5 separate regions of the Homo sapiens genome follow, and all the other regions are linked to region 2. Evidence: fine-mapped expression QTL. A gene starts in region 2. Each other region holds a variant in brackets. All regions are shown on one strand. Distances are from middle to middle.

The links. PIP is the estimated chance that this variant, and not a neighbour inherited with it, causes the effect. A credible set is the group of variants that fine-mapping cannot tell apart.
Region 1: its variant is the best candidate, but not a certain one, in a credible set for the expression of SYNE1 in adrenal gland (GTEx, PIP 0.52).
Region 3: its variant is the best candidate, but not a certain one, in a credible set for the expression of SYNE1 in whole blood (INTERVAL, PIP 0.83).
Region 4: its variant is the best candidate, but not a certain one, in a credible set for the expression of SYNE1 in blood mononuclear cells (TOPMed, PIP 0.85).
Region 5: its variant is the best candidate, but not a certain one, in a credible set for the expression of SYNE1 in stomach (GTEx, PIP 0.83).

What each region holds. Positions count from the first base shown.
Region 1 is chr6:152,596,858-152,601,966 of GRCh38, reverse strand. All of the region lies in intron 3 of SYNE1 (spectrin repeat containing nuclear envelope protein 1), which reads left to right. Among named protein-coding and RNA genes, the nearest start is that of SYNE1, 38 kb to the left of the region's middle. The variant A/G (reference allele first, on the strand shown) is at 3,035.
Region 2 is chr6:152,634,830-152,639,938 of GRCh38, reverse strand. It overlaps SYNE1 (spectrin repeat containing nuclear envelope protein 1), which reads left to right and starts at 2,577. Exons shown (of 146, transcript NM_182961.4): 1 at 2,577-2,750; 2 at 3,134-3,301. RefSeq lists an enhancer at 4,950-5,079.
Region 3 is chr6:152,582,233-152,587,341 of GRCh38, reverse strand. The region is part of intron 3 of SYNE1 (spectrin repeat containing nuclear envelope protein 1); the gene reads left to right. Among named protein-coding and RNA genes, the nearest start is that of SYNE1, 53 kb to the left of the region's middle. The variant T/C (reference allele first, on the strand shown) is at 2,070.
Region 4 is chr6:152,564,486-152,569,594 of GRCh38, reverse strand. The region is part of intron 3 of SYNE1 (spectrin repeat containing nuclear envelope protein 1); the gene reads left to right. Among named protein-coding and RNA genes, the nearest start is that of SYNE1, 70 kb to the left of the region's middle. The variant A/G (reference allele first, on the strand shown) is at 3,184.
Region 5 is chr6:152,570,644-152,575,752 of GRCh38, reverse strand. The region is part of intron 3 of SYNE1 (spectrin repeat containing nuclear envelope protein 1); the gene reads left to right. Among named protein-coding and RNA genes, the nearest start is that of SYNE1, 64 kb to the left of the region's middle. RefSeq lists an enhancer at 2,486-3,048. The variant G/A (reference allele first, on the strand shown) is at 2,326.

The sequences.
Region 1 (5,109 bases), 38 kb after region 2:
CAAGACCATCCAGGACAAGCAGCATGTGGGTAGGCAAGATGAGAATGGCCAGGTGAACCCCGGGGATGAATTTCAAAGGCAGGTGTCACTTTTTACACACAGCCTACTTCTGAGTATATGGAATCAGTAATGAGTGGACATTCTCCTCACTCCTGTTTAGATGTTCTCATTTCATCTACTGCTGGGATCTCATCTTAGGAACCAGTCCTCTCAATGACACTTAACTTCCATTCAAACTGCAACTCCGGTTAGATTCCCAGAACTATTGCTAAGTCTAGTGATTCTGCAAGCGTTTCAATGATGGTTTGTCGTGTTTTCTGTGGGTGTTTAAGGGCTCCTCCTGCCTATGGCCTGAACTTCATTTTTACCCATACCTGTTCAGCAGGATAGCAGCCTGCCTGGGTTCTTTGTATATTGGAAAAGTTAGGCATCCACATTCTAATCCTGCTGCGAAGTTTCCTCACCTTGTGTAGGCGACACTGGGCTGTCTTGTATTTGCCTTTTTTGCCCTACCAGATATCTCGATGGCATTGCCAATTAAATGTCAACCTCAGCCTATTGTTCCTTCTTCTTTGGTTTGCCTAAAATATATTTATTAACCCATGGATTAGGTGAACCTCAATTTCTTCAATTAAATTAACCCTATGCCTAGCCAGGTCTACTATTGATCATGGCCTTGACAATGATCACATCATATATAAATCTTGTCTCCCAGTAATTATCAAATGCTTTGCTTCCTATTTTTAGGCATTTGACTTGACTCACTGTTGAACTCTACCAATGTTTCTGCTTTTGATTTGAATGGCTGCTCCCTAGCTTGGTGTAAACCATTTAGCATATATCCCATATCCATTTGAATGAGCAAAGCTTCCTCACTTCTCAGAGGGAGAAGTTTCTTTTGCTGTTTTGTTAGATTTGGAAAGTGATCTTCCCAGATTGTCTGATTTTAAGCTTGCAACTTTAAGACATTGTAAATACGTGGGAAGAATCACAGCATGTTTCCCATCTAGAAAAGATGAAACTGTTTGTTCAGACCTTCACTGGACATTTAGTTCTTTACTAAAATATCATTTTTACCGTAGTTTCATTTAAGTAAGAGTTTTTAATTTCACAGTGCATACATTCATATTCTGAATTACTGAAAAATTTTCTGACTGTATCTCTTTTATTCTTTATAAAATAAAGAGCCATCTAGAGGAAAACTTTCCTCCAGTGACCCCAATTCTTTCCCATCTCTTCGTTTCTCTGAACATCAAGGAAAATTTAGACCTGAAGCAAAGCCAAGAAGAAAGGGAAACATGAACATGAAAATTGGAGCTAAATGATTGTCATTAGTTAAGAGAGAAATACAGAAGTAGATTTTCAGCAGATCCATTTGTTTCTTTTTTGCATTATTTGCCAGCAAACAGATACTTCAACCCCAAGGGAAAAAAGTTACCATAGCTTCTACTCATCCGTAATCAGCCTTAAAATTCTGCACTTAAGTTTCTATGTAAGACAAAGGAGAAGATGCCAAAAAGAAAGGTTTCTGTTTGCTTTTTAAAAAAATAGGAACAATTTTAAAATTGTGAGCTTTTTAAAAAAAATTATCACCCTTTACCAGCCATTTGAGTAAAAAGTATTGTTTGGATTATACATTTTATACCCCAGTGTCTAAAAGAAAGCCATGCATAGGTGAGATCTGTTTGGACTCTCAGTTCCTTCTCACCTGGGTCATGGCAACTGTTCCTTAGCCTCTCGCCATCTGTTGTTTTGTTTCGTCACCTCTTCTGAGGTTTGTGCCGTATCAGAGCTATCCTCCTGTTAAACTGTTCGCCTTTGTTACATACTATATGTGAAGTCATAGGGCTTGTCAACTGCTACTGCATTTAATGGAGTCGTCAGTCCTGATGAGTATTACTGGACTTTGCTGGCTCTTGTTGGCACTAAAGGGGAGACATTTTATAGAATTTACTGAATCTCTTCAGGTCTCACATTATTTTTTGGTTCAACCCAAGTCGTACCTTTTACCTTCCAGGTAGTTCTTGTGTCTCCAGTTACCTCATCTTCTACATTTCACCTACCAGATATCATTTCATGTAGTTCATCTTCATCTATTGACTTGTAGCACCTTGTTAGAGTGTTTGTGTCTGACTTTCTATGCTATAGGATACGTATATGATTTCATAATGCCATTGCTTTTGTAGGATAAGTAAACAATAGAAGACATAGCAATGTAAAGAAAATAATACCCTTGAATACACTTGACTCAAATGAATCTGGCCAATGGATTTTAATTCTTACTATAGAAAGGCAGCAGAATTTTAGTTACATAATGAGCAGTTTTATAGTCAGTAGTTTGGGATTCTTACCAAAGGAATTGACCAAGCCTCTTTCAACTTTTCACAATTTATCCATGTTTATCTAAAAATTAGGCAAAAAACCCTGATGTATCTGGCTCTTGTAGACAGAGTGTCCACAGCACTAATTCCAAGCATTTATTGTTCTTTTGTCGTTATTCCTTTGGGAACCAAAGACATTTTTAGTTCTTTGATCTGATAGTGTCACCAATGTAGGACTGCTCAGCATGTCAAGGGCGGGAAGTGGGAGGAATTCTGGAAAGCCCTGTGGGTGTGTGATAACCTAATGCCATCAGATAAGTAGATCCAAATAGTACTGCACAAAGAGCATTCTTCCTCTGTATTCCAAGCACTTACTAGAGCAGCCTGCAGTGATGTTTTCCTTGGCAGGCTTGTGTAGTCATTATTAGCCAGTGGCTTGTCCATTTTAAAATTGGTGATCATTTGAGGACTCAAGGGGCTGGATTTAGTGTTTTTAATACATTCAGAACGATAATTTTTCTCTCCTGTGAATTTGTAGTATTGAAATTATTAAAGAAACAGTAAATTTCCTTGGACTGTGCTGTTTATTATCTCACGAGAAGGGTGAAAATTAAATCCAGATGTTTGTTCTCTATTTGATTACAGTATAAGACTCAGAAGAGGCCTCTGATCTATTAAGAAAGATAATAACATCACTTGAATTTGTTATTATT[A/G]GGCTTCTCTCTGTGACAAAGATGAACAGCAGCAAAACATCTGGATTAACATGGAAGCACAGCTAGATGAAAAATAACACTGTTAATTATATCATAAAATACTCTTCTTGGCTATTGTATTATCTGTCAGATAGATCACATATTGAATGTATATTTATATGTTACCTGCTTCTGTTTCTGCATACAAAGACCAGACTTACCCAGATTCAAGAATTTTGAATTCTTCAGATTCATCAACTGTGATGACTAATTGCCACATTGTCCCTTCTTGCACTCTACAAATGGCAGACTTTCTTTTAACTTTGCAAATGAAGAGGACACCACATTCCCATGATGCTATTTTGAAACTCTTGAAGCTGATTCATTATGGGAAGTATTGCTAAGAGACCATTGAGTTTATGAAAAACTGGCAAATGTGACTTAATTAAATTACTTAAAGAAGAATTGTTTTAATATTTTAATGTGTATATTCAGTTTCTGTATTAGTCAGTTTTCACACTGCTGATAAAGACATACCCTAGACAGGGCAATTTACAAAAGAAAGAGGTTTAACGGGCTCACAGTTCCACGTGGCTGGGGAGGCCTCACAATAATGGTGGAAGGTGGAAGACACGTCTCACATGGCAGCAGGCAAGATAAGAGAGCTTGTGCAGGGAAACTCCCCTTTATAAAACCATCAGATCTCGTGAGACTTGTTCACTATCATGAGAATAGCGCAGGAAAGGCCCGACCCCATGATTCAATTACCTCCCACCGGGTCCCTCCTACAACACATGGGAATCACGGGAGCTATAATTCAAGATTAGATTTGGGTGGGGACACAGCCAAACCATATCAGTTTCTGAATCTGTATATCTGAGCCTGAGCTTTTTTCTCCCTAAGGCCCAGGAAATATTTCCTTTTTCTTACCTCGTTTAAATGTAATAAGGGATGGTGCCTTCGTTACCACTTCATCAATGCAGTGATACTGATACTAAATTAGATGGAGCTCGTGGATCAATTCCTAGTCTTAGAAAAATGAAAATATGTATGTATTTATAAAAATCATCATGATATAAAAAGTAAATAATACTCACTACCATAGTTGCTATAGCGAAAGAAAAAGGGAGATTTTCTAGAGAAGAAAAACATCGCTTGACTATAATATATACTACATATTTAAGCATGTATTTTAGGGATTTTTCCTTATAAATATATTCATAATAGCTACAACAAAAGAAAGAATTCATTACAAGTAGCTGTTTCTTCAGTGGACATGCAGTCTATAATTGTATAATAGTCACATGGTCTCTGGAGTTTGTGCTCACTCATTCTGAACACAGCAGATATCTGGCTGCTGAATTAAATCCAATTCAACAGCCGTTTATCTTGTACTTGCCAAACTATAGGAGGCCAAGGCATGAGGATCACTTGAGGCCAAGAGTTCAAGACCAGCCTGGGGAACATAGTGAGATGCCATTTCCACAAAAAATAAAAATAAAAAAATTAATCAGACATGGTGGTGCACATCTGTAGTCCCAGCTACTCAGGAGGCTGAGGTGGTAGAAGGATCACTTGAACCCACAAGGTCGAGGCTGCAGTGAGCCCTGATCATGTCACTGCCCTCCAGCCTCGGAAACTAGAGTGAGACACTGTATCTAAGAAAAAAGAAAGTTTGAGGCAAACAGGAAAGTGCTTTAGGTAGTTTTAGTTACTGTAAGATGCACGTCTATTTAATGTTTAAAAATAAATTTCTCTCCATATGCTCAATGGGAAAACATGTTGCTCAAAAATCAAATGTCTGTTGGTTTACTAAAATATCTAGAGCCTCCCAGAGCAAGTGTGTGTAAATGAAATCTACCACTTCATATCAATTTAACAAAAATTTTTTATGCTATTAGAGAAATACCTATGATTGGAGAAGAGGGTAAGAGTGATCTTATTGAATTTTATTTTGTCTACCAATTTAGTGCCCACATTTTCCCCAGACATATGGAGGCCCTCATGTTCCTGGCACAGAGGATGAGCAGTTTTTGCTTGTGCCTTTGTCTGTGCCTTTAGAGAGGACCAGTCCTTTGTGAAATAAACCAACTGCT
Region 2 (5,109 bases):
GGCACGATCTCAGCTCACTGCAACCTTCGCTTTCCAGGTTCAAGCAATTATCCTGCCTCAGCCTCCCGAGTAGCTCAGATTATAGGCGCCTACAACCACGCTGGCTATTTTTTTTTTTTTTTGACAGAGTCTCACTCTGTCGCCAGGCTGGAGTGCAGTGGTGCAATCTTGGCTCACTGCAACCTCCGCCTCCCAGCTTCAAGTGTTTCTCCTGCCTCAGCCTCCTGAGTAGCTGGGCCTACAGGCATGCGCCACCATGCCCAACTAATTTTTTATATTTTTAGTAGAGATGGGGTTTCACCATGTTGGTGAAGCTGGTCTTGATCTCTTGACCTTGTGATCTGCCTGCCTCGGCCTTCCAAAGTGCTGGGATTACATGCATGAGCCACCGTGCCTGGCCAATTTTTGTATTTTTAGTAGAGATGGGGTTTCACCATGTTGGCCAGGCTGGTCTCGAACTCCTGTCCTCAAGTGATCTGTCTGCCTTGGCCTCCCAAAATGCTGGGATTACAGGTGTGAGCCACCATGCCTGGCCAACTCCCGTTCTTGAAAGCTCTCATAGCAACATTTGCCTTTGCTTGGAGAATGGGGTTTTATAAGTATTTGTGTGGTTCTCTGATGAATGTCTGGCTCTTCCCCCATCATACTGTAAGCTCCATGAAGGCAAGAGCCCGGTCAGAGTTTGCTTACCACGGTAGCCCCAGCACTTAGGACAATATTTGTTATGTGGTAAGTGTTCAAGCAATAGCTGTTGAGTAAATGGAGCTACAACACCCTTCCCTGGGGTGTGTGAAACTGACAAGCCCTTTGCAAAACTCTAAAATGTGCTTAGTCCTTCTACAGAGGATAAAGTTTAGCTGAGAATGGGATTTCAGCTGTATAGGGAATCAATGCCAGCAAGACAGCTCTATGCTTCTGTCTGTCTCAGCCTGTGAGAACAGAGATTAGGCCTAGTAGAGGAGTTTTAGTTGGTGGAAGCAATGTTTCAGGCTTGTGTTTTAAGTGGCTCACTTCTCAAGTAAGTAAACCCAAGAAAGTAGTTGCTTAACGTGTAGAATAGCAAGTTGGTGGCCAGGTGCAGTGGCTCACACCTGTAATCCCAGCACTTTGGGAGGCCGAGCTGGATGGGTCACCTGAGGTCGGAAGTTTGAGACCAGCCTGACCAACATGAAGGAACCCTGTCTCTACTAAAAATACAAAATTAGCCAGGTGTGGTGACGCATCCCTGTAATCTCAGCTACTCAGGAGGCTGAGGCAGGATAATTGCTTGAACCTGGGAGGCGGAGGTTGCAGTGAGCCGAGATTGCACCATTGCACCCCAGCCTGGGGAACAAGAGCGAAACTCCATCTCAAACAAACAAACAAACAAAAAGAATGGCAAAGTTGGCACAATAACTTTCTACCCATCTTCAAAAGCCGGCAGGGTGGATTGATTCTATGAAGGTAGGGATTGAGAGGGTGAGCTGAGCCATTCTGATCTGTTTCTTCTGAGTGGCAAGCCTGGAAATCTGGACCCCATTTTGTGGCCACTGGGCACAGAGGGCTGACCTGGAATAATTATGCTCTGGTGGTTGTCTCCACAAGGGGCTCTGGGGGTGCCCCAGGATTGTTGCCCTCAGGCAGAGGCAGGGCATACATTGAGAGTGATCCCAAACACTCCTCCTCCAGGCCCAACTTTTGGAGGTAGCAAGTTCTGCAAATAGAGATCCATTGTTTGGTTTCTCTCTCTAAAAAAAAACAAAAGTCAGCACAAAGAAGAGGAACACATCAGATTGGTTTACCAGATTTGTTTCAGATGTTATTATTTTGACACGATCCAGAAGAAGGAGAATTTGAAGAAAATGGAAAGCTAGGCAGTGGGAATGTTGGCAGCAGGTAAGGGAAAGGCAGGCAGCAAAGAGAAACTTCATCTACTTTATAAACTGCTCCTTCCTTTCAGCAAATTTAGAGGATAAATGACTGTTTTGTTCAGATTGGAGATTCAAGGGGGGGATTATTACTTTTAAGATTATTGCAACATGGCTTCGATTATTTTAGCTGCAATCATCCTGTTGGACTTGGACTTCACTGTTGGTGAAGAGAGACTGTGTTTGACTTTGCCTGGATACCATAAAACCACAACAAAATAAATTCTCCTGAATGCTACCAGGCAACACCAAGATCTCTTACACCACGAGAAGGACTTGTGGCCAAAGATACAAATGGCTCCGCAATGTACAGGGTGCATACAGTGCACCTGAAGAACCTAAAAGTGGTTTTTAGAATCATCATAATAAACAGTCAAGAATTAAAGATGTCAAGCGCTTTCTCAAGAAGTCTAAACTTTATACATAACATTAAAAAAGATCTATAAAGCCTGACCAGTCTCCCTCAAATTAAGTTATTTGCTACTGACTTGGCAGCCAAAACGATTTAGGATCTTTCGGAAGTTGATGAAAAAGGAGCCAGCGGGTTTTGCTCTTTGCTCTGCATCACGCCCTTCCTGGGACCATCAGGGAACCTCCCAGCCTTTCAGGATAGGTTCCGCTCAGAAAGGTCACCCGGGCAGTGGAAACCGTGGGCAAAAGTTAGCTGGCAGGACAGCGCAGCTCCTCCAGGCAGCGGAGGCAGCGCGTCCCGGCTCTCAGGGACATTTCCTTCCCACCTCGACCCCCGGGAGGTGGTCCCGGTATAAAGGCTCGCTGAGCGGGTGGGTCACAGCACAGCTTTGCAGCTGCGGAGAAACGCCCAAGGCCGTGCATCTCCAGGAGGTAGGGAAGCCTGCGAGCCTCCGGGTCCCCGCCCCCAGCTCTTCCAGGCACCGGCGCATCCCGGAGCCGGGCGCGGGGCGCGGGGCACGGAGCCGGGGAGGGGGTGTGGCGGGCCAGGGCGGTGCAGGGACCCTGCCCAGAGGCTGAACCGGCCTGGGCGACCTTCCTTCCCGACAGGAGCAGTAGATGCGTGGGGGAGGGCGAAGGGGGAGGCCTCACCCCCCAGCGAGCAGCCGGGAGGAGGAACCGGTCGCGGAGGGCGGGGAGCGCGGCTGAGCAGCCCGGCGCGGGAGTGAGTGTGGGCGAGCCAGCCAGGGTGAGCGCGGGCGCCGGGCCGCGGCCGCCGGCCGCAGCGGGCTGAGATTGTTGTCCTCTGTCACCAGGGCGGCTGGGCTCCCGCAGTCCTGCAGACCGCGCCCGATCCCGGCGACAGGGCGGGCGGACAGCCGCGCATCCCCGGGGTCCCGCCGAGCCTGGGCGCAGAGAGCCGGGAGGAAGCGTTCGCTCGCTTCGCCTTGCTGCTGGGAAACTGAACGAGGCCGAGAGAGAAGGTAAAAGGAAAGACAGAGACTGGGAGACAGGGAGAGACAGAGACAGGGAGAGGAGAGAGAGGTGCAAGACGAACACATTGCAGACAAATTGTCAGCAAGTTTGTGCCTGCACGCTGGGGCTCTGCGTGCTTGATGGGAGGGGGTGGTGGCAGTGATGTGTGTACGTGTGCGATACTCATAGATAAGGAGACTAGGAGGTTGGGGAGCCTCTTTGCATCTCGTACGTAGATGTCCCTATTAATATCCCCCTCTCTGAGTTGTCATTTCCGCTTGTGGCACATCTCCTGGGCTCCAATGGTGCAGAAGCAAAAGGCAGCCAGCCTCTTATTGTGATGGTCGGTACTGTTGCTACTATCAGATGGGAGAGGTAGGGCGTTGAACAGATTCTAGGAGCCTCCCTTCCTCCACCCCCTGACTATTTTAGGAAGGGCTGGGGGAGGGAAATGGCTTGAAGGCTGCGCGGAGGCCCTGGCGCGTCAGACTCCAGCGGCGCTGTCATGGTGCAGTTGCTTCCCGGCAGAGCCTGCACTAGAGGGCAAGAGAACTTTCGTCTCCTCTTTATAAAGATACGTTTCACATAGAGAGATCTTGCATTGCTGGCGGAGGAGTTCTGGGAAATGGTGGTGCACAGGCGGCCAGGTGCATCCCAACGGGCAGGCATCCGTGCAAAACGAAGCAGCCATCAGCCGCACAGGAAGAAGCCCCTTGGGAAGGCAGGCTGGGTGTGCTGACTGGGATCCCAGACTTTGGATGCTGGAAGTTCTGCCCCCTTCCGTAAATAGAGTCAGGTCCAGCCCAGAGGGAAATATCAGCAATGAAGCCTTAGCATCCCACAATGTTCATTTCTGAGCTTTTCGTTTTGGGGTGGAAAACTTGTATCTGAAATGTTCCTGTGAATGTTAAGAAAGTTAAAAATGAATTATTTTTCTCTTCTTTAATGCCCATCCATTTTTTGTCTTCATCTGAGAATGACTTTCCTAAAGACAACATTCGTATACAGAAGCCAGACCTATGCAAGAGAAAGTATAATAATTTTCAATGAGGCAAAGGTCATTAATATGACCTACATCTTCATAAAATGCGAATTTAATCACGAGTCATGACGATTGTTCTTTGAGAGGCTTTTTATTCCCCATGGTGAAAAAAGATTTGTAGTATGGCTAAAAAGTTCCTGATATCACCGGAACAGTGTGACAAAATACATATCTATTTTTTCTTTTCTGTTCATTACTTTGTGGCAGATTTAGAACAAAATGTGAGAGATCTATACTAACTTAATATGTTTCATGCTGAAGATTAAGAAACAGCTTCAGACTGACCCAGATAACAATATTTGCTAGGCTTTGGAAATATTTGCCTAGCTCTTATTTTATAGTCTCACTTTCATCTTTCTGAACTAATGATTTTCACAAACTGGTTTTCTTCTGTCCTCATTGACCTCATTTAAGAACTCTTTTTTACTTGAGTCCTTCCTGCCAGGGAGAGGAGATTGGAAAAAGCTAGTTTGCCATTTAAAAATGTTCAAGAATTGTTTGGTGCTGCACTGGGCCTACTTTCTGATAACTATGCTGCACACACAGCATCTTGGAAATGAAAGGAGGTGTGACTGTCACAGGATGTAGGAAGCCCATAACTGGGCAAGGTTGGTGGCATTTTCACAACTCCAGCTCTAGCTACTGCAGCCACACCCTGTGGTCTGAATGTGACAGGCATGCAGGGCCCAAACGCCTCTGCGAGGTCCTCTGTGTGTCTCCTCTTAAATGTGTACTTCTTTGTGGTCTAATCTAACGAGAACTAATGTTTGGCAA
Region 3 (5,109 bases), 53 kb after region 2:
CCCTTGGAATAATGGTGTAGGAGTTCTGGTAAAAGATGATAAGGAAGGATGTTTTTATTTTTCCCTGAGACTTATCAAAAGCAACAAAAAGGAATGCAAAAATTGTGGAAAAAATTCAACATTGGTAAACTTGAAAATAATCATACTCCTACCCAAATCTTTAGGATAGGAGTATCTCTATCTGTCAAATAATAGTGATAATTGGATCAGATCAAGTGAAAGACATCAAAGACTGATACATACCACTCTGAAGCTCAGTTAGGATATGGACTTCTCTAAAGATAAGCGAAATGGTCCCAAAATAACCCTTTACAAAGATATGACTTGGCCCATGGGAAGCCATTGTAGATGTGGAGAATGTTCTAATACAGACCGATTTTCTTTCTGAAGAACATCAGAGAATCAGGGCTGAAGAAGACAACATAGAGCTGCAATTATTTTCTGTGACCTAGAATAGACTTAGCAGTTTGTTAATACAGTAATGTGTTACCAAATGGGGGAGTCTTCTAGGAATGTAGGGATAATTCAATATTATGAATTATATTAATATAATTTATCTTAGTAATAACCCAAAGAAGAAACTCTGTACCCATCCAAATGCAAAATAAGTTCTATGAAATTTGCACTTAATTCTGATTTGTATAAAATCTTCATAGTGGTGTGTGTGTGTGTGTGTGTGTGTGTGTATGAGAGTATGTTTGTATATAGCCAGCATCAGTGCTAAGTTTTAAGAACATTCCCACCAAAGTCAGTAGTCACATACCAGCCAATATAATTGGGTACAAATAAATAACAAAAATAATTAGAAGTGGTATGGCAAACCTATCATTAGTTACATATATTATCAATGTATGACTGGAAGACATAAAGGAATTAACTGAAAAGCTGTTAAAAAACAGCAAGAGAATTTAAGAAGGTGGAAGATATCAAATGCGGAGAAATTATATGAGGAAAAATCTGACACAGTCTTTTGAGGAATATATAGAAGAGGACTTGGACTAAATTGAAAGACATAACTTGTTCCTGGACAAGAAAACTCACAATAAAGATGTCAGATAACAAATTAAGCTAAAATTGCACTCTTGAGCAAGACTTTTAAAAAATTTGAATTGTTAGAAATAATTATATTAATTCAGAAAAATAAACATTATATGGTATATAGAAAAAAGTCTACAAAAGAAGAGTTATGAGGGAAACCTAATTCTATTAGATATTGGAATATACTTGCCAACCATAGTAATTTAGACATATATATACTCAGGGTGGAATATGTAGTTCAAAATAGGCCCACATATGTAAGAGATGAGAATATTCATGTCATCATTTGGAGACTCTTGGATAGGGAAGCAGAGGAAAGGAGCTGACTTATTACCTCATGTCTTTGTATTTCACACAGCACACACAGACACCCCAAACACATGCACACATACACACAAACACAAACACATGCGATTTCAAGCAGACCAAAGGTTTAAATACATTTGTCTGCAACTGACATTTTGTAGGCTAAAATCACTTATTTTTACGATTCCATATGGCTTAACCTAAATTTTAAAAGATGAAACCATAGAACTATTTTAAAAATCATGGCGGTGTTTTTCTTTTTCTTTTATAATCTAGTAATGGGGAAATCCTTTCTTAGCTTGTCAGAAACCCAGAACCAAAAAGAAACTGATTTGTACATTTCAGTGCCTAAAAATATCTGCACAACAAAATGTATAAATAAAAAGCAAATGAGAAAGTTGGAGAAAAATGTGTCACAAATATGACAGAAGTTATATAATTTTGTAATAGACAAAGGTCTTTATAAATCATTACAAAAAGGAAAACCAGTCAGTAGAAAATAGGCAAAAGACGAAAACATCTGCACTTAGGCAATATTCCTCCAATTAGAGACGTGCATAAACATTGAGTCAGTAATTTTGTTTCTATGATTTTATCCCACGGATCTATTTGCATTTGCATGCAAAACTAGACCACAAAGTTGTTAATTGCAACATTTTTGATAATGCTAGTATATTAGTCTGTTCTCATGCTGCTAATAAAGACATACCTGAGACTGGGTAATT[T/C]ATAAAGGAAAGAAGTTTAATTGACTCACAGTTCAGCATGGTTGGGGAGGCCTCAGGAAACTTAACAGTCATGGCAGAAAGAGAAGCAAACACGTTCTTCTTCACATGGCGGCAGCAAGGAAAGAACTGCCGAGCAATAGGGGAAAAGCCCCTCATAAAACCCTCAACTCTCATGAGAACTCACTCACTATTAGCAGAATAGCATGAGGATAACCACCCCTATGATTAAATTACCTCCCACCGGGTCCCTCTCATGACACGTAGGGATTACGGGAACTACAATTCAAGATAAGATTTGGATGGAGACATAGCCAAGCCATATCAGCTAAAAACATCTTATGTTTCCCTATAAGGAACTCTTTATGAATAGAAAAATGCATTCATACCATGCAACATTATGCAGCTATTAAAATATGATGAAGATTTAAATGTAATGTAACGTGAAGATGCAGAAGCATGTATACATTTTTATTCCAGAAATATTTTCTGCATATTTTCTTCACAAGAGTGTAGGGTTACATATAAATATTACGTTAACTTGCTATATTAAATAAGATATGAAAAGTATAAGGCCGGGTGCAGTGGCTCATGCCTGTAACCCCAGCATTTTGAGAGGGTGAGGAGGGAGGATCACTTGAGCCCAGAAGTGTAGAGCAGCCTGGGCAATGTAGCGAGACCTCGTCTCTACTAAAAATCAAAAAAATTAGTTGGGCATGGTGGTACACACCTGTGGTCCCAGCTACTGTGGTCCCAGTGAGGTCTGACAGCGCCATTGCAGTCCAGCCTGGGTGACAGAGCAAGGCCCTGTCTCAAAAAACAAAATAAATAAATAAAATAAGTAGGGATACAGAGAAGCAGATGTTATTTTGCACCAAGGGGAATACATTAAATATGTATTTTGGGTTATCTCTACTTAGATTATAAATTATAAATCACACTAAATTAAGTATAAAAAGTTAAAGTATAGTATGATCCGATTTTGTGATCTCTTTCTTTCTCTCTGTCTCTCTCTCTCTCTCTCCATATTTATTGAAACTTTGTGGCCAGGCACTACTGCAAGTGTATATGACATGTGTCATCTTATTTAAATCTCACCAGAACCCTAAGGAAAACTTTAATTATTGTGCTCCCCGATTTAGCAGATAAGGGTATCGAGGCACAAGTGTCATAATCTGCCAAAGATCACAGAGCTAGGGAGTGCCAGTGCCAGGATTTGAAAGCAGGCAGTCTGGTACCAGAGCTTCTGTTCATAACCCCCAGGCAATAATGCCTTCCTATACATTGCCTCTAAATCCATCGCAAAGATGCACACAGAAGAGATGTTTTTCTCCTTCCTTGTGTGGCTATATCTAGTTTTTAGGTAATGTTGAGTAGGATAAACATATTTGTTAGGACTCCTCACCTCCAGTCCATCCCTGCTTTTTTACTCTCTGCCGCAGGCCCACCCGAGTCTAATTCTCCCACTTTTGCTCTCAGGAAAAGAGCTGATAAATTCAGTCAAATGACCAGTGAGGCATAGTGCTCTCTTCCAATGTCCCTTTTACAGCAGAAATGAACCATTGATTCCAGACTGACAGGCTCATCTGAGTCACTGCCAGCTTTCAGGGGATTGGAGGCTGATAGGGGGATTTGAGGTAGGAGAAATTCTGGAACCTGTAAAAACAGACACAGCCTATTTTACCAGTCTCTGGAAGTAAGGCGTCTTCTGTTTCTCTAAGTTTTCTGATAAAGGTCCCACACATTGGAATTGTTGTAATAAAACAGGCAACATTTATAGATTTCCTATTTTTCTGCACAATCCTCACAGTAACCTTAGAAAGCTGGTGACACTATTTTTATCCTCATAATAAGGGAATGGGGCTCAGTACAGTGAGGTAATGATGCCCAACTAGTAATGATAGAGATGTCACTGCAAAGCCTGTCCTCCCAGGGAGGCAGATATGGGTTGAGGGTGTGAGAAAGGGAAAGTTGTGATGATCCTAAAGGCCCCTCCACCCTGAGTGACCTTCATTTTAGGATGTGACGCATGAAGCCGGGGCACACTAGAAGTCCCAACACACAGTGGTTCCTTAATGAGGGTCACTGATTTAGGATCTGAGCAAAGGTAACTCAAAATATATATTTAATGTATTCCCTTTGGTGCAAAGTAACTTTTATATTACTCAGTAGCAGCTTATTTATTGGTCTTTGTCAATAAAATAATTATAAAATGTATAAGATTTATAACACTTCAGAATCTCTCCACTCCAACAAAGTGACCACTTGATTTTAATAGCACTTCATGATTTTGTCTGTATTCATAGCAAAACAATTACTAAATAGAATACTCTGATGAAAAATTTTAAATATGATTGCAACCTTCTACAAAGTATTTAGAAATTATGAAATAAATTTATATTGTAGAATTACAGATTTCAGCAAATTTTGAAAAGGCCACAATATATGTAAGTGGCCAGTATACTCTTTAACAAAGATGAAGTAATTTTAAAAAAAGATGGAAGTAATAGACACTGAAAACTCCAAAAAAGGGAAGGATGGAAGGAGGCTGATGATTGAAAAATAACTTATCAGATAGTTTTCACTGTTTGGGTAATGGGTACACTAGAAGCCCAGTCTCCACCAGTACCTTATATTCTCTTGTGACAAACATGCACATGTACCCCATGGATCTAAAATAAAATAAAGTTATATATATATTTATTTATATATATGTAAAAAGTTTTGAGCACTGGTAACCCATTTTAAGCTGGCAACATGTATATGTAATATGTAATATATGTGTGTGTGTATATATATAAATTTGACTTAAAATTTAACTCAGTGTGTGTACACACTCATGCACACACATGTATATATACACATATTTGAATACTTTTAGGGGGTGAGTGGGACTAGGTAAGTAATGATATTGTTATTACAAGGAGAGATGTGAGAGATACTATGAGAATGTTTAAGACAAGGTGCTACAGAGAAGGGAAAGAGAACTTCCAGATATGATGATATTATGGGAGATCTTACCTTTGAACTAGGTACTAAGGAG
Region 4 (5,109 bases), 70 kb after region 2:
ATATGCAAATCTAGTTGTCATTTCTCACAGTGTAATTATTGATTATCTTTACTTTTAAATCTTTAAAATATGGTCTTTTCTCTTCTTTATTAAACTTACTTAAAAAAATCTAAATTTAACAATGGGCTAAGCTATATAAGCACTGATACATATGCTTTTCAAACATAAACTTCTGTTATCCTACCAACAACCTTATGAGGCAAGTGCCATCATTACCTCCATTTCACAGATGAGGAAACTGAAAGGAGAATCTAGATAACTTGCCCATAAGGTGATGATTAAACTAAACCCAGGAAATTGGATGCATGCTGGGAACCACTGCACCACAAAATTTTCTACAGCTTATGATCCATACAGTGATCCCAAAATTTGATTGTGCATAAGAATCACCTGGGTATCTTGTTAAAGCCGATTGCTGATCTGCTTCTGTAGGTCAGGATTGGAGCCAGGAATTTACATTTCTAACAAGTTCCCAGGTGGTGCTGATGCTGCTGCTCTGGGCACTTTAAGGACCACTGATGTATGATAATACTGAGACTAGGAGCAATAAAGAACTAATTCATTAATGTTACTTAATCTTCATTATAAGAGTTAAAAATACTGGCTTTCAAAAATGGCAACTTATTACAGCTCAAAATCTCTTTCTTTTTGTTTAAAAGTTACCCCTGGATATTATGCTTATCTCATTGTTTTTTAAATTGAATAATGTAAAACTTTATTTCATATGTTTTAAAGACCATTTTGTGAATTGCTGGTCCATATCTTTGCTTACAAATGTAATGGGACTGAAAATTTTTCTCATTGATTTTATTTAAAATTCTAAGCCAGGTGCAGTGGCAAGAGCCTGTAGTTCTAGCTACTCAGGAGTCTGAGACAGGAGGATCCCTGAGACGAGGAGTTGGAGGCTGCAGTGTGCTGATTGCACCCATGAATAGCCACTGCACTCTATTTTGGGTACATAGAGAGACCCTGTCTCTAAATGTAAATAAATAGGCCAGGTGCAGTGGCTCATGCCTGTAATCCCAGCACTTCGGGAGCACAAAGCAGGTGGATCAACTGAGGTCAGGAGTGCAAGACCACTCTAGCCAAGATGGTGAAACCCCATCTCTACTAAAAATACAAAAATTAGCCGAGTGTGGTGGTACGCATTTGTAGTCCCAGCTACTTGGGAGGCTGAGGCACAAGAATTACTTGGACCCAGGAGGTAGAGGTTGCAGTGAGCCGAGATCTCGCCACTGTACTTCAGCCAGCTTGAGCAAAAGAGCGAGAGATGCTATCTCAAAAAAAAAAAAAAAAAAAAAAAAAGAATAAAATAAAATAAAAATTTAACTCATATTTTTAGCACATATTTTCCCACTATACTCTTTGCCTTTATGTTTATAATATGTTGGATATGTATTTTTGATTTTTATGCAATGAAACCTATTCCTCTTTAGTTATTTTTAGGCCTAAAATGTCTGTCTTCATTATTAAGCATATTTACTATATTTTCAGGTAGTTGTTATAGTTTATTTTAATTCCCTAAACCATTTGGTATTTATTTTGGTGTAAAGAGAGGTTCTCAATGATTTTTTTTTCTATTTTCATTTGCCCTCTAGTTTTCCCTAAACTATTCATCAAATGATCTTTCTCATTTTGTCTAGATAGACACAAGTCTCTTTCTGGACTGTGTATTTCATTGCATTCTATGGTGTGTTCTTTCTCTGTTACCACATTGCTTTAATTAATGCACCTTTTACATTTTATTTTTAATATTTGATAGGACAAGCAATGTGTTCCCTTCCCTTGTTACTTTTCCTTTTCATATCTGAGATTTTCTACATGAGGAAGTCAGACCGCCCTCCTTTTCTCCAGAAAGCACCCAGGAAGCTATTTTTTGACAATAAAGATTACTTTTTTTTCTTGGATTTTGCACAAAAATCTGTAAGTGCAAAGTTACTGCTATAATAACTAGTTAGCATTGGAATAGAAGGAGAGTTTCAGGCTGGAGACATCATGGCAGTTGAAAAAATACTCTGTTCTTCTTTTATTCTTCTCTGTTGCCTTTGCTTCAGCAGATGGTAGAAGGACTCAGTGGTAATAATGGAGACAAAAAAATCAATAGAAGCATCCAAATTATCTGTTATATATACTTCACTATAGGCTAATTACGATCTTTACTATTAAAGAAACATGTAAGCACTGTGTAGGTTAGGAAAACAAAATAACGTACAGTTTTATATTATAATGGGAAAAAAATCTTTTTCATTGGCTGAGTTATTAACAGAATGATTAAAATGGTTATGCTTAGCATTCATCCATCTACAAATGAATGGATGAAGAAATTGTGGCATATATATAATGGAATATTATTCAGCTTTTAAAAAGAAGGAGGTCCTGCGACTTTTGACAACATAGATGAACCTAGAAGACTTGCGCTAAGTGAAAAATACTGCATGACACTTAAACAGTAAATCTAAAAAAAGGCAAATGCATAGAAACAGAGAGTGAAACAGCAGTTAACAGGTGCAGAGGGATGGAGCAGTTTAGGGAGATGGGGGACAAAGGGTATACAGTTGCCACACACGCATACACACACACACACACACACACACACACACACACACACAGTATGTGAAGAGATGAATATGTTAGTTTTCTTGGCCGTAGTAATTATTTCACTATGTGTATCAAAACATCATGTAATACAACTTAAATATATACAATAACAAGTTAATGTTTAAAATCATATGTTGAAAAACAAAAGATGCTTGGCAGTGCCACAAAAAAAGTGTTTGTGGATTGTTATTCTACCCGAGATTAGGCCCTTAAATAATGGAAGTCACTCTTACAACTGCGGTTGTTTGTGAAATTAATATTTGAGTCAGGCCAAGCTCTAGGTGGAGTAATCCTATAAAGACACCTTGCTGAAAATGCATCTGTGGTTTCTCTTCCTGCCTGATGTCCATTTGGCATCCACACTCTGTTGATAATCCCACTAAGCCTTATCCTACAGCACCGTGAATTTAAGATTTTGTGCCAAAAATGCTCTTTTAACCATGCTTTTAATTTAATTTGAAAGGTGGTGGATTGGACTCAAATTGCCTCTGAACCTATATTTTGCTGCTCTTGGATCTTCCTGTGTCCCCTCTGCACCTCCTTCCTCTCACACTTCTTAATAGCTGCTATTTTTTTTTAATGTGG[A/G]TTTTTTTTCTCAAAGCTGGTATTGTTTCTTCCTGAAAAGAAACAACATTGCCCTTGACACTGCAAAACGAAAATACAAAGAAAGGTCATGCTAGTTGCTCGCTTCAGCTTGAGAAGCGAGAACATGTTTTTCTCAAACCTGCCAGCATCTCTGTGTTACCTTGCGTCATCCCTTGTTCCTTCACTCTTATCTCAGTGGGCTGTGATGCTTAACCTTGGTTTTTCACACACACCCCAGGTTCAACACTGGAGGGGTAAGGAGCTAGAAGCTGCTACATTTGCTTGGTTCTTCTTCCCCTGTTTTTCCCTATACACAGCTGTAGTGCTGTGGAAGAAAAAAATAATTTTTCAAGGATGTAAAGGAACTAAGTTTACAAGGACATTAGGTTTAGGTTTTGTATCTTATTTTTCTCCTTGCCCCTGTGCCCTCTGCTCCCATCACCCATGTATGTAGTCAGTGCTTTGCACATAATTTGTGTGCAGTAAATGTTTCTTGAGTCATTTAAGAAGACTGGTCCTCATTTAAGGCTACAAACGATGTTTATTCTAACTTTTAAACCCCACAGTTCCTCCCCCTTAGTTGGCACTGAGTAGCTGGATTTCCAAATGGAAATAAGGCTTAAGTGAGAAATTGAAAAGGACAAGAAATCCTATTTGTAAAACAACTGAAAACCATCTCCCTCTTATTTTTTCAGTTTTTTAGAAATATGCCCTTCCTTAGAGCCTCCTTTTTTTTTTTTTTAAACTTCAGCAGGGAACTTGTCTGAATAAGGGAAGATTTTAAAGCGAAGTAAAGTTTAGCAACCTTTGACCCTTTTCTGGGTCTTGAGTGAATACCAAATGAGAATTTCAAGAATTATAAGGTTGAAGATTTAATGTTGAATATATGGGTATTGGGTCGTCAGACACTTAGCACGTAATAGAGGGTAAATAGCAGTGCCAGTAAATGCCAAAGAGTATTAATAAGTCCATACTTTTCCCTGACTTTAAATTGCTGCATATGCCATACTGGAGGACAAATCTGCTAGCCCTTAGGAATGAATACTAGGTTGTGGGCCCAGCTTTTAAGGATTCAGGATTACTTTATTCCCAGTAATTAACTAACTTAATTGGCCTGAACATGTCAAGATAAATTGAAACCAATGATTTGGATTTGCTCAGTAAATATACCTTTGAATGTCTAAATTCCACAAGAGGCCCTCTTTCTTAGTGTTGAAGCTAGTGGAGGCAAAAGGAACCACATAAATTAATGATCAGGTTTCTCCTGGCTTCTAGAAACTTCTTCGCTTCCCTGTCTTTATTAAATACATATTCTAATAATAAAAGAAAGCAATGGTCTGTTCTATTCCCTTAAGAGAAGTTAATTGCTGCTATCATGTTTAAATCAATAAGAGTAAAAACAAGTATAACAAGTAACTAACATTTATTGATGAATGAATACTATGTGATAAGTGTTGGACACAGCATTTACATAAAATATCTAACTTAATATTTACAGTGATTCTAGGAGGTTTTCATTATTATTTTTGTCTCTAGTTTACATATGGCTAAATGAAGCTATAAAGTGGCTAAGTCACCTTTTGAAATTCTCGCAGTAAATGATGATGCTGGGATCCCGAGTCGGATCTGTTGCACTCCTAGACCCCAAAGTCTGTTGAGGAAATTCATATTTCTTTTGGCCTCTACTGAAGAGTGAGTTTGATTTTTTTTTCCCTAGAAATCATGAGAATAGTTAACATTTTTTATAAGCAAACTTTTGGGGGTTAACAAATTTGATGTTATAATAAACGTTCCTGTCCAGGCACGGTGGCTCACGCCTGTAATCCTAGCATTTTTGGAGGCCAAGGTGGGCAGATCACTTGAGTTCAGGAGCTCAAGACCAGCCTAGGCAACATGGCAAAACCCCGTCTCTACAAAAAATACAAA
Region 5 (5,109 bases), 64 kb after region 2:
AGTTTCCTCATTACAGTGATGATGAAACTGATGTTCTGATAGGCTGAGAAACTTGTTCAAGGTTGCATAGCTAGTAAGTTGTGGCAAATCTAGGCTGTTCTGACTGCAAAGATCATGTTTATTTATGTTGACTCCACAATCTTAAAATGGAACAACAGCCTATTGGATTACTGAACTGTAGTGAAATGCAATATAACTTCTCTTTTTCATGTTTTCAGCAGTTTGCATAAATAAATTGTTGAACAACTATTTTAAGATTCTAAAGCTGTGGTTTTTGAATTCTAGTTCGGATAAGAATGACATGAGGAGTGTGTTCCAATGCAGACCTCTAAGCCTTGTCTCAGAGAGTCTTGGGGCATCTAATGCAGAACCCAGGAAGCTCCATCTCTAGTGAGCATTGCATTCTGATGTCATTCGTCCATGAAACACATTTTGACAGATACAAATCTAGAGGCATGTAATTCAGCCCAGACCACTAAATAAAAGCTTCATTCAGAATTGTTCTGCTCAATGCAGTATGACATTAGGAAAAACTTTATCAGGTGTTGCTCCTTGAAATAGTCCTTTAGGGCATTTATTACATTCCCAGATTGAAGACCACCATCCTATACCACCGGAGTTAGAGAAAACCTCATCAACTGTACCCACCACCATCATGTGTCATTCAGGGATGGGATTATAGCTTAGATGGAAGAGTTCTTACATTTCATGTTTGGTACATTCATTCACATTTATTTTTCTTAAGAAAGCATAATTCCAATGGTTATTCTCTTAAAATAAGTACTTCCATGGTGGCTTAAAGAACCTAAAGCCACAGAAATGAAAAGCAAACAAAATTAAAAACAAACAAACAAAACAAAAAACAAACCAAAAACAGCTAAGAGTGAACTGACGTTTCAAGAGTCCTGCTCTATAAGGATTTGACTGAATGGTGCCTGTCCCAAGGATCTGAAAGTGTTAGTGTGCCTGAAAAAAACAGAAGTTAGATTATACATTGGGGAAAATTACTTTGATTACCTTAGTTACTTCAAATACCTTAATACTTTCATGCAAACATATAAAGTGTATATCCTTCAAGTGGGGTTTTCCATGGTTGAGAAACAACTACGGTATTTACTTAGCACCTATTATGCTCATCTCCTTTCCTTCCCTCAAAGCTTCATTTAGTCCAATTAATGAGATAAGATTTGGATTGATTACCAGACTGCTTAAGCTTAATCAACCAACAAAGACTGAAGAGAGTCATGAAAGAAGTGAGAGCAAGAGGAGGAAGGGCATCCCAGTCCTTGTTGTTCAATTACAGCAATTAACTGTCAGGTGCAGAAAGGAAAGGCAAGAACAAGAGCAAAGAGGAGGTAATTACACAGGGTTGAGCTTGGGGATGCCTTTGCAGAGGTGCAGACACGTTTCTGAGGCAACTCTCCAGATCTCATCTACGAAAACAACAAATATATATTATATATATTTCCTCTCTAAACCTACTCCTTTTGCCACCAAATTAACTTCTAAGGCCTATCTTGTTATATCTGCCATATATATATATATATATGTATATATTTATGTGTATATATATATGTGTGTATATATATACATATATATGTGTATATCCCATTATATATTCCATAACTGTAGATTTGGCCCATTTTCTCCATTCTCACCCCGTTATGAGGCTCAAATCATAGTTACAGCTGGGGACTTCATTTAATTTGTTTTTAAGAATCTGTAACTCATAAAGAGATGACTCAGAGCTTGGTTGAACATCTCTAATGTTTTTGCTTCCCCCAGCTCCCACAGCCCGTAAAGTTAAAATATGTTCTGTGCTTCCAACAGGTGAAGCAGAGCTTTGATGCTATTATGCTGTATCTAACAATGAACCTGTTTTGTTTCTTAGTCATAGAAGTTTGCTGTATATGATGCATACTCTTTTAGGATGGGTAGATGCTATTGTTACTGTTAGTTTGATCATTTTCTTCAAAGTTTTAAAAAATAATTAACCTAATTCTTGAGCATATGAATTAGAGTGTCAAGGTAACAGACTTTTATAGGGAAATCTTCAGAAAATGTAGGCAGAAAAGTTATGATTTATGAGAGTCCCAATATTACATTCTTGACATTTCTTGAAGATAGGTTCTAAATCTTCTTGAACATTTTTTCCTGTTTTCAAAATTAGAGAATGGTAAGTTGGGGTCATCTGAGGAAAGAAGAGTTGTGAGCAATGGAATCCAACCTGCTTTTTCATCACTTCTCTTCAGTTTCAGTTAAAAATGTCAGCCTTGGAAACCATCATTCTCAGCAAACTACCGCAAGGACAAAAAACCAAACACC[G/A]CATGTTCTCACTCATAGGTGGGAATTGAACAATGAGAACACATGGACACAGGAAGGGGACCATAACACACCAGGGCCTGTTGTGGGGTGGGGGGAGGGGGGGGGATAGCATTAGGAGATATACCTAATGCTAAATGACGAGTTAATGGGTGCAGCACACCAACATGGCACATGTATACATATGTAACAAACCTGCACGTTGTGCACATGTACCCTAAAACTTAAAGTATAATAATAATAAAATTTAAAAAAAAATCAGCCTCCTCTATAGAGACCTCAAGTAGGTAATGCCCAGAGGGGAGTCTCCACCTCTAAGTGCCTCGCCCTTAGAAAAGTATTCCTTTCTCTTTCTTTACCTTTAATTTTTCATTGCCTGAGGATATTCAACAAGGTGTTATCTAATTCGAGCAGTTGACAATGAGGTGTGAATGTCAAATAGACATTCCCAGAAGGAATCCTTCCCAGAAGGTGTTTACATTCCTAAAATGTTTATTAGACCAAAGGCAACTCCCTCTTTCAGAATTTGTGGCTGATTTGTTTTTGTATGCTCTGTTGGCTTTTCCTGCCTTCCCTCATAAACTAAATGACCCAGAAAACATCAACACACATCATTCACACACAACACCCATGAACAAATACCATGGAATAACTTTTATTCCACAGCTTTTGGCATTACACCAATTCATTCCCCTTACCTCCGCTCTCTCTCCTTTTTAAGTTACTCTTCATCCCTAGCGAAAGTGAGTTGCCCTTCAGGAAAGACTTTTTCTGGAACGAATCTTTCCAACTGCAGAGGAGCTTTTGAGTATCTGGCAACGATGAGTAGTATTACTGACATTCTGGTTTTGTGACGTTGGGCGGGTCATAGACTCTGGAGCTGTTTCCTAATCCATAAAAAGTGCTCTTATTCTAGAAATCTATTATTCTGGGAGTCCCCTTATTCTGTTTATTGGCTTTGAAGCTCTTCCAATCCAAACAATTTCTCCCATAAGTCATAGGAAATGAGCACTTTTACAAAAAGCAAGACATTGAGGACTGAAGTGAGTCATTCTAACAGCTAATTAGATTGTTGTGCATTTTGGATACATGTAATTAATGGACCCTCCTTTAAGAATAGTGAGAAGAACTGAATTGGCAAAATGGACAAAAATAGAACATACTTTGGTTTGTAAAAGTTTGAATTTACGTAAGATGGTAGTAACATTACCTCAATTGTTACACTTCATTACAGTAAAATGCTAAGTATTATATTATGCAATGACAATAGAAATATCACTCAGACACCTCAGAAGTGTCATTAAAGATGTAGGCATTATGCAAAAATATATTTGATTTCTACTTGCCTTTTCAAATGCTTCAGGCAAAAGGTCAGTCCAAGATTGCGGTGATAAAGCTGCCCCCACCCCAACCCCTTCTTTAATTCAGGAAGTGACTAGAGTTTTGTTATTGTAATTACAAATATGATAATTTCCTGGCAAGGAAATTTTTAAAAACTGTGATGATGCACAAACTAGCATTGAAAAATTTAAAAAATGCATTGAAAATAACAAGTTAGTTGCATATAGCAAGTAAGTAGAAAATGATTAAAAACTAAATTTAGTTACATGTTACTCTTTCCTTTTTAAATTATTTAAGAAAATACACTAAAATGTTAATCTTTTCTCTGCCAGGGAAAATGCCTCTTTCGTCACAGTAATTGACCCAATACAGATACAGCCATAATAAAACAATTTTGTTTCCTGAGACCCATTTTCTTTCTCTTTGTGGGTACTTTACAGTCACGGATTTTGGGTTAAATCACACCATTTTATTAGTGACAAGAAGTTAATTTGCATGCTTTCTTCCTTCCTTTTTTTTAGGGTAAAAAGTATACACATATAGAAATTAAATATAAATCCTCCCCCTTCATCATGCAGCTGTCATGAAATGCCTCTGAAGGATTGTAGGTGTGTAGCTCTAAATTTCGTGGTGCTACAGGATTCATATACATGTATTCTCCATTCCTTCAGAAATTGCTGGCATTTTTTGTTTGTTTGTTTCTGCACATTGAATTTTTCTTTCTTCCCTTGATTTTCCTTTTCTGAAGACCTAGAGTCAACACAAGTGCCAGTTCTCAGCTAGAGATCATTGCCAAGGCTGTTATTTTAAAAGCAAGCCTAGTAATCAGTACTTTGCTTCCTGTTCTTAAGCAATCTCAGAAGACAAACCAAGTAGGGGTCATTTCTATTCCATTGGGTTAAAAGAAACCTCAGAATGGAACACATTGTAAGGTAATGTTTACAGGTTAAATTTATTGAAACTAAGTAACTGAGATAGAAAGTTGTCAATTGAAAAATATCTCTGTATTACTGTGTAGGTCAAAAAAGACCAGAGTAAACATCAAATTAAATAAGCAGCTTGATTTCTGAGCAAAGTCCCTTCCCTTCTTGCTTTCTGAGCAATGGGATGAATCCCCCTTTGTGCATCCCTTTCTGAGACTGGGCAGGGCAGTCTCGTGAATTCCTCCGCATCTGGCTGCCTTTAGGAGAGAGCTCCTAGATAGATGCTTACCTTACTTATTGCTGTGAGTAGGAGTTTTTTTGTTTGCTTGTTTGTCTTTCTCTTTAGTGAGGTACACTACAAAAGAAAGACTTCTTACCATGATAGTAAGGACTGAACCTTCCTAGATAGCTCCCTTTATTAATTTGTAGAAGGAAGGGGATACCATTGTTTTGATTGCCTCTGATTAAGGGAACAGCTGTTAGTAATCTGCAAGACCCGCTTCCTGGTGGGAATAGGTGCAGC